Linked DNA regions of Homo sapiens: region 2 is linked to region 1. The links come from fine-mapping of genetic effects on gene expression. A gene starts in region 1. The other region holds a variant in brackets. All regions are shown on one strand. Distances are between the middles of the regions. Region 1 holds the start of LAMA5 (laminin subunit alpha 5). Region 2 holds the start of MIR4758 (microRNA 4758).

Region 1 (4,501 bases):
ACAGTCACAGGCCCTCCGTCCTGAGACCCGGCCCCTCTGAGTTGACCAGATAAGGGGGCAGCCAGGAGGCACCCAGGTTCCCACAGCTAACCCCCGCTGGACCCTGTTCTGGCTGGGGGGCTCCAAGCAGGTGTCAGCAGCTTTCCAGGGCTCAGATCCCCCATCTGAAGTGTGGGCTTGAGACCTCCTATCTCAGAGGACTGTGCTGGGCTTAAGGAGAGAACGGTGAGCCCAGAAGCCTGGGGAGGCTCCTTCCCCCTCCACCAGGGCCAAGGGGGTGGGGCAGGCAGAGGGGGCGGGCCCAGCCCAGGCTCCTCCATTCATCCCCATAACGTCTTGCTCCAGGGCCCTCTGCCCCCACCCAGCAAATCTCCAGCTACTCGCCCCTGCCCCAGCCTCTCCTTCCGGGAAGGCAGAGGTACCAGGGAGGAGACAGCTCAGGTTACACAGGCCCTCAGGGCCCCTAGACTCTCCCTAAGGTGGGGCTGAGGTGGGGAATGGGCCTAGAGCGGCCGGTTGGGAGCCGTTGGAGCTGACTTTGCTGCTCCTCACCCAAGGCTGACCCCAGGCCCAACCTAAGTCTACAGGGCCCCAAGAGCCTTGGTTTTCAGGTGAGGTGTCCATGCATGGAGTCCACCAACAGAACCCGCCTACAGGTTTAAGGCTTGTTGGGGAGGGGACATGCACCCCAGGGGGTCTTCAGGGCCTGAACCCACATCTCCCAGGGAGACTGAAGCCCCCGGACCCTACCACCTGCTGGGCAGAGATGCTGCCCCTCCTGGGAGCCACGTGTTCCCAGCCCCAGTCAAAACTTCGCAGCTGGCCCTCCCCTACTTTGGAGGTCTCCTCGAGTCCCTAGACTCCTCCGAGAGGGGCTAGTGGGAGCCTCAGGTGGCTGGCCCCTCCCACCCCATCCAGAGGCCAACAGGTTCCAGCCTGTCCCGGGTAGGGCGGAGCTGCGCCCCCTCCCCACCGGCAGCAGGCGGCGGAGGCCAAGTCCCGCCCTCCCCGGGATCCCGGACTTGGGGCCGCCAGGGACTGGGCCCGGCCCCCCTCCCGCCCCGGTCACCGCAGTCGAACTGGACCGGCGCCCAGCCGCCCCCGGGTCCATGCCGGGGACTTTAATTCCGCCTTCCCGGAGGGACGCGAAGTTTCCCGGCCGAGACGGAGCGGCCGGGTCGGGGTGCCTTCTTGGGCCCCCAAAATGCGGAACCAGAGAGTCCGCACCTGGACTCGCCCCGGGCCACGGCGCTCCCCCTGGGGTCGGGCCGGTGTTCCGGGTCCGAGTGCCCCGGGAGGAAGCCCCACGGCCCGCCCCTGCGCTCACCCGGATGGTCTGGTTGGGGTCGCCGCCGGCCACGGGGCCCCCTACCAGCTTGCAGTAAAGGTCCTCGGTGGGGCGCGGGGAGCCGCGCGCCGGGGCCTCCTCTCCGCAGGTCGCGGAGGCGGCGATGCGGGCGCCCTCGGCCAGGTTGAAGTAGGGCGGGTGCAGGCTGAAGCCGCCGCCCGCCTCCTCCCGCGCCCGCGCCGCGCCCAGCAGCGCCAGCCCGACCAGCAGCAGCGGCGCGGGGCCCCGGGGGCCGCGAACACACAGTGCGCTCCCCGCGCAGAGCCGCTTCGCCATCTTCCCGGCTCCGGGCCGCGTCCCCGAGCTCCAGGGACAGCGCGCGCGGCGGGAGCCCGGCGGGTCTGAAGCCAGGCGGCCGGCAGGGCTCGCTCCGCCCGCGGACGTCAGGCCCCGCCCCGGCCCGCCCGAGCGCCCGAGCCCCGAGCCCCGGGGAGAGGTCCGGGGAGGCGGGGTGGGGGGGGGAAGGAGAGAGGAGGGGGAGGGGCGGCCGGGCGGCCTTAACCCTTCGGACCCCGGCCCGGCCGCCTCCCGGAAGGGGCACCTGCTGGCCTCGGGCCAGGCCGTGGGACGACGGCGCCGCCGGGCCCCCAGCCCAGGTCGTAGCTCCGGGTCCCGGGTGGGACCCTAGCGCTCCCCACGACGCCCTGGCCCCCAGAGCGCCCACCAGCTCCTCCCAGCCCAGGGGCCCACTCTTTGTTCCCCTAACTTGGGTGCACCACTCGGCTGCCCCCGCTCCTCCCCCAACAGCGTCCGTCCTGCTGGCTGCGGGAAGGTGCCCTCTGCACCCGCGAATGACCATCTGCAGAGGAACGGGGCAGCCTAGGTGGGAACCCCCTGCTTCCTGGGGCAGCCAGGTCAGGTTCAACTCGGCCTGGCTCCCGCCTGCCCCAGCAGGGCTTAAAAATACTCTCAGATAGGGAAATAGGGGCAGGAGGGACTGGCCTGCAGCTGCAGCCCCCTTTAGAGGACGGGGGCGGTGCTCATGGCCCCACAGCCGCCAAATTGGCTCTTAAGGAGGTCGGGGGCTCTGGTCACAGCTGCTGAGCACCTGCTGGGTGCCTGGAAGCACCTGTGCTCCGGGGCCCGGTGGACTCCACCAGCTCTCTCGGCCTGGCCTCCAACCCGCTGCACAGCCGCGCACGCGTTCCTGCCACGATCGGCGGCTCGAGGACGCCTGGCAAACAGCACAGGACCTAGAGGCCGAGATCAGGTCTTCGTCTGCCTTTGGGTGGCTGCGGCCCTGGGTCTCCTACTTCCCTTGGGCTCCGGGGCCAAATCTGCCTCCAGGGAAGCCCCGAGGGGGTGGCGGCGGGGTGGGGCTGCAGCTGCCGAGCTGGCAGCAAACCCCCATCCCTGAGCCAGGCCAGCTGGGCGGGCCATGGTCCCAGATGGGCTGTGGGGCTCATCTCTCGCTGGGTTCCCTGGACAGTCCCGGGGGGCTGGGTGGGTTTGTGGGGCACTGGCCAGCCGGTTCTGGTGGGGGTTCTGAGCTAGCAGCTGTCCCTGGAGGGTGCACCTCCTTGCACACCTTCCTGGCGCCCTGGCCTCCTGCAAATCTCAAATCCCAAGAGGGTGTATGGCCCTTTCTCTACGGAGTCGGGAGGGCGATGGGACCCTCTCTCCCTCCTCCTACTTTCCGGCCCGGCAATTCTTCCATAACTTCACTATTAGTTCTCCCACCTGGGGGAGGGGGGAGAGGAGGCGGCTCCCCTTGGCAGGAGAAGCTCCAAGTGGGGGAGGGGCTGGCTGGAGAGGGGGCGGAGACATCAAGGAATCTGCAGTCCAGGCGCAGAGTCCGGCTCTGAGCTGCTTTAGATCCCGTGTGAGGCAGAGAGTGGCCTCTGGGCAGTAGCGGGTCCCCAGGTGGGGGCTTGGCCCCAGGCAGTGTGCTCTGGCTCTGGGCTCCCCCTTGACAGCTTGGGGCTCTGACAGCCTGGGGGACTGGAGGTGGAGACTCCTGAGACCCTGAGGGCTTCTTGGGATCCCTGGAGGGTCGGGTGGTTGGAGGGGTGGGATTGCGAGTGGCGGGGCAGGGGGAGAGGTGGGGGTGGGGAGAGCACTTTAAGCCTCCTAGCGGCCAGATCAGGCCAAGCTGCCAGGCCTCCGCTGTCCCCCGGCACTGGCCAGGAGGGGAGCGGGGGCCGGCCCTGAGAATGCGCTGTGTCAGCCGGAGCTGCCAGCACCAGCAGGGTTAATCACCGGGCTCACTGCTTCCCGGCAGACAGCTGCCCCGGGAGCAACTGGCAGGCAGGCGGGCAGCGCAGTGGACAAGAGAATGTGGCCCAGGGGCTGGGTAAAGAGCCCACACTCTGCCCCCACCCTGTGTCTGCTGGTGCACGGACTGGGAAGGAGGCAGCTGGGGCAGGAGCTGAGCGTATGGAGGGCGGGGGGGCTGTCCCAGCCGGGCTACACACAGGGGGTTGGGGAGGTGAGCAGGGAGAGGGGCAGCTCATCTCTGCACACCCCCACCCCTGCTGTCTTTGTCATGGTTCCAGTGAGTCATCACCAAATGGACCAGCGAGCCTGTCTCCTTGTCTTTCTGAGTCCTGCGCAGCCCAGCCACCTCTTCTATTTACAAATGGGGAAACTGAGGCCAAAAAGGCCAGGGTCAATCAAGAGCACACAAGTTAGTAAAGCAAGAGGAAGTTTGTCCATCATTCATTTCTTACTCCTATTTACTGGGCATCTTTCGGGCACCCGCCCGTGACGTAGTCCTCCTCCCTGCAACAGGTCAGACGGCACCCCACCCCCAAACACGTCCTGTCCTGAATCCACAGGAGGGAGCTGCCCAGTCTGGGAGTGGAGGGGAGGGTAAAAGGAGGTGGCTCGCCAGGGGAGGGCCGTGGAGGAGCCTCTGTCCCACCAGGCTCTGGCTGCCCTCCAGGGACAATCCAAGATCCAGAGCCCCTGCCCACCCAGCTCCAGGGTGATGGAGCCCCAGAGGAGGTGGGTCGGGGGCAGGGGTCAGTGGCAGCCCGAGAGAAGTAGGGGCACTCCTGGCCCTGGGGAAGGGGTCTCAGATCCTCCCCCAGCCCTGGGACAAGGTCTGCTGCGGAGCCCTGGGGGCAGCCACCTCACCTGAGCCCCCAGTGCTACTCCAGTGGCATTCCTGAGAATGCCCCCACCCTACTCGGCCACACCTGCAGGCAGCTG
Region 2 (4,000 bases), 33 kb before region 1:
GCTGTGAGCCTCACGCTGGCCTCCGAGTCCAGGTGGAAGACAGCCAGGTGGTCCTGGGTATCCCGGGCAGTGCCCCGGCACAGGGTGCTGTGGGGGGAGGGTGGTCAGCAGGTGGGGCAGCCCCGGGCGTGCCCTTACTCCAGCCCCACCGGCTCCCACTCACCTGTACAGGCAGGGGTGCAGGGAGAGCAGCCCCTGCTGGGGGGCCCGCTGTGGGGTGTGCACGGCCACGCCCACCTCCTGGCGGGCATCCTCATTGGCGTACTCCACCACTAGGGCATAGCGGCCTGGCTGTGGCACTGCCACTTGAAGCTGGACGTCCACCTGCAGGGAAGGCAGGGTGACGGGAGGCCCGCCACCCCTCGCCCTTCCCACCTCCCTCCCCTCCCACTCCAGCGCCTCCCTGACCCCAGGGCCTGCCCTTCAGCCGAGTCCCACCCTGGCCCGGACATCTCCAGGCAAGTGGTGGGGGCTGAGCTGTATGTGGAGGCCACAGCCAATCCTACATACAGACAGGCACTGAGGTCACACATGCAGGAGGCAGGAGGCAGGAGGCAGGGGCGCCCTGCCTGGGTGCTGGGCTCCATTGCCTGAGGCAGCGCCCTGCTCCTATAACCTGCCACCGCCACAGGACCCCCAGCCCCCAGGCCAAGGTCCTGCAACACCCATTGCTCCGTGGGGTCCCAGGACACGCACATCACTGCCCGTGCAGGTGATCAGTGGCGGGTGCGACGGGCTGAGCTGCTCCGTGGGGCAGGGCCGGGGCAGGCTGTTGTCCTGGCGACACAGGGCCTCCAGCCCGGCGGCCGAGGGGAAGCCATCCAGGGGGAGGTGTGTGTAGAGGAGGCAGCTGGGGGGACACAGGCCGTGGTCAGCCCCAGGTCCACCCAGGTCCCCAGAGACAGCCTGAGTGGGGGAAGCCAGGCACAGTGGGGGTCCAGGAAGCCCCCACCCCGGTCCCACCGCACGCATGGCCCTCACTTGTCGCCAGACTGCTGGGCAGAGGGACGGTATGTGCAGGCCTCAGTCACCCGCAGCTGCAGGAGCGCCGCCTCGTAGTATGCGCTAGGCAGCAGAACCACGTAGTCCTGCAGGGTGGAGGTGGTGCTGAGAGTGGTGGGCCCCACCCCCTGACCCGGCCCCCAGCCCTCACTCTGGCCCCTGCCTCACCAGGAGCACCCCTTCGGCCTCCACACGCAGGGCCCAGGTGCCAGGGTTCAGCACAAAGGGCTCTCCGAAGCCCCTCTGGGGCACGGTGATGAAGGCAGGCTCCGTGCTGGGTGGGAAGGCCACGGGCTGACTCTGTGCTGTGCCTGGGCGGGGGCAGGGGTGAGACTCCTGAGCCCAGCCCTTGGGGCCACCCCAGGCTGCACCCCCTACAGGGTTGGGGATAGGCTGGTCCTACCACCCACATGAGCCAGAGGAAGGTGGCGGGGCTTGGGAGTGGGGTGGGGTGGGGTGGGCTGGGCTGGTGGGGCAGGGGCTGTGGCCCAGGGACCCCACTCACAGTTGGCGCAGGTGGCCGACCTGCCCTCCTCTCGCACAGAGACCCGCCCGCTCACACTCATGGCCCCCCGGTTGACGTATCGGAAGACGAGCCAGAAAAGGTCAGGGGAGGTCAGGTTCAGCCTGGCCACGATCCTGGGCTGGGTGGGCATGGAGCGTCGGGTCACTCTCCCTGACCACTGCCAGCCTGAGGCCTGGGCCTTCAAGGGGCCTGCCCACCCCTCCCTGCCAGCCACGCCTGGCTCCACTTCTAGGCTGAGCCTGGGAGGGGGAGCACAGCGCCCACCTGGACAGGTGCCATCTGCGCGTAGCCCCTCCAGCTGAAGTTCTCGAACTCGAGGGGGTTGAAGCCAAAGCGCA[C/T]GGCGTGACCCTCAGGTGTGGCAGCCTCCTCCAGCTCCAGGCGCAGGTGGTGCAGGTCCGGGAGGTAGTGGTCCCTCGCAGGCCTGGCCACAGCAGGGGCTGGTCAGGTGCAGCTTGGCCATCCTACCTAGCCCTGCACAGCGGCCCCGGGTCTCCAGGGAGGGTGAGGCCTCACGTGGGCCCATGGTGAGGGACACGGAGAGGCCCGGAGGACAAGCTGCCTGCCCCGCTCCCCACCACCCAGTGGGGAAGGGGTACCCACTCGCTGCAGGTGGGGCCCTGGGTGTTGGGGCGGCACCGGCAGACGCCCGTCCTCGGTTCACAGCTCTGGCCCAGTGCACCGCCAATGTCACACCGGCAGCCTGCAGGGAGAAGGTGGGAGGTCAGAGGCTGCCTGGCCCCCACCCAGCCTCAGGGGCCCCTCACAGCCAGACTGAGAAGCCTGCCTGGGGCTCTCTGGATGATGGAGAGTCAGGGCTCAGGGCTCAGGGCTCAGGGCGAGGGCGAGGGCGAGGGTGAGGGCGCTGGGATCTGTTAGTGCCGTCTGCCCAGGTGTAGGACAGGGGAGAGGAAGCCACGCATCTGGGTGGGAGCTGCACCCCCTCTCCCACACCCTGGCACAGGCTGGCACCAAGGGGCAGCCATCCATCACCCGGGCTTCATGCTGCCCAGGCTGCACTTGTCCCTCCGGGCCTTGGGTTCCCCAGCATAAACCGAGGGGAGGCAGGGCTGTGGTCTGGGACGAGCGAGTGGGCACTCACTGCGGCAGCCAAAATAGTCAGCCTGATCCAGTCCAAAGAAGCCATCCTTGCAGGACGCGCAGGCCTGGCCGCACACGTGGGGCTTGCAGAAGCACTGGCCGGTGCCCTGGGGGCCAAGGGAGGAGGTGAAGTGGGGCAGGGGAGGGTCCTGACCAGTGTGCCCCCAAATCCCCCACACCTTGGTCCTCAGACTCACCGGCTGGCACTCAGCAACTCCACCCAGTGTGCCCCTGAGGTCGCAGCTGCAGCCTGGGGAGAGCAGGGCAGGACTCAGATGCTTGGTGGGGCAGGAGAGCCTGGCTCCAGCCCCCCGAGGAACCCCCACACCCTAACACCCCCTCCAGGGCACACTCACAGGCTCCAGCACCCCCAGGAGCCCCTGCACCCTGACACTCCCTCTAGGATACACTTGCAGGTACAGTTCCCCAAGGAACCCCTATACCCCAACACTCCCTCCAGAGCACACTATAGGCTCCAGCCCCCCAAGGAAATCCCATACCCCAATACTCCCTCTAGAGCACACTCAGACTCCAGCCCCCCCCCAGGAACCCCTGTACCCCAACACTCCCTCCAGGACACCCTCATGGGTACAATCCCCTGAGGAACTCCACACCCCAACATTCCCTCCAGGGCACACTCACGGGTGCAGCCCCTCCGAGGAACCCCCACACACTAACACCCCCTCCAGAGCACACTCACAGGCTCCAGCACCCCGAGGAAACCCCGTACCCCAACACTCTCTCCAGGGCACACTCATGGACTCCAGTCCCACGCAGGAACCCCCTGCACCCCAACATTCCCTCCAGGACACCCTCATGGACTCCAGTACCCCCCCAGGAACCCCTGCACCCCAACATTCCCTCCAGGACACACTCATGGGTGCAATCCCGAGGAACCCCACACCCCAACACTCCCTCCAGGACACACTCATGGGTGCCATCCCCTGAGGAACCCCACACCCCAACACTCCCTCCAGGGCACACTCACAGGTGCAGCCCCTCCGAGGAACCCCTATACCCCAATACTCCCTTTAGGGCACACTCACAGGCTCTAGCCCCCCAAGGAACCCTCATACCCCCAATACTCCCTCAGGGCACACTCGCAGCCCCCCTGAGGAACCCCGCACCCCAACATTCCCTTCAGGGCACACTCATGGGTACAATCCCCGAGGAACCCCATATCCCACCACTCCCTCCAGGGCACACTCACTGGCTCCAGCCCCTCCAGGAACCCTGCACCCCAACACTCCCTCCAGGATATACTTGTGGGCACAGTTCCCCAAGGAACCCCTGTACCCCAATACTCCAGGGCACACTCACGGGTACAGCCCTCGGGGTTGCTGGGGCTCAGTCCCCAGAACCCAGGTTTGCAGC

Evidence for each region.
Region 2: its variant is fine-mapped to the expression of LAMA5 in gastroesophageal junction (GTEx, PIP 0.92).

The regions. Positions count from the first base shown.
Region 1 is chr20:62,365,622-62,370,122 of GRCh38, forward strand. LAMA5 (laminin subunit alpha 5) reads right to left here and starts at 1,691. Exons shown (of 80, transcript NM_005560.6): 1 at 1,328-1,691. The coding sequence starts at 1,624. RefSeq lists enhancers at 496-1,195, 3,294-3,993 and a silencer at 1,375-1,814.
Region 2 is chr20:62,332,394-62,336,393 of GRCh38, forward strand. It overlaps LAMA5 (laminin subunit alpha 5), which reads right to left. Exons shown (of 80, transcript NM_005560.6): 18 at 3,947-4,000; 19 at 2,824-2,876; 20 at 2,628-2,733; 21 at 2,129-2,228; 22 at 1,793-1,949; 23 at 1,508-1,646; 24 at 1,171-1,313; 25 at 982-1,088; 26 at 697-850; 27 at 164-324; 28 at 1-87. MIR4758 (microRNA 4758) reads right to left here and starts at 164; the gene lies at 94-164. The variant C/T (reference allele first, on the strand shown) is at 1,867.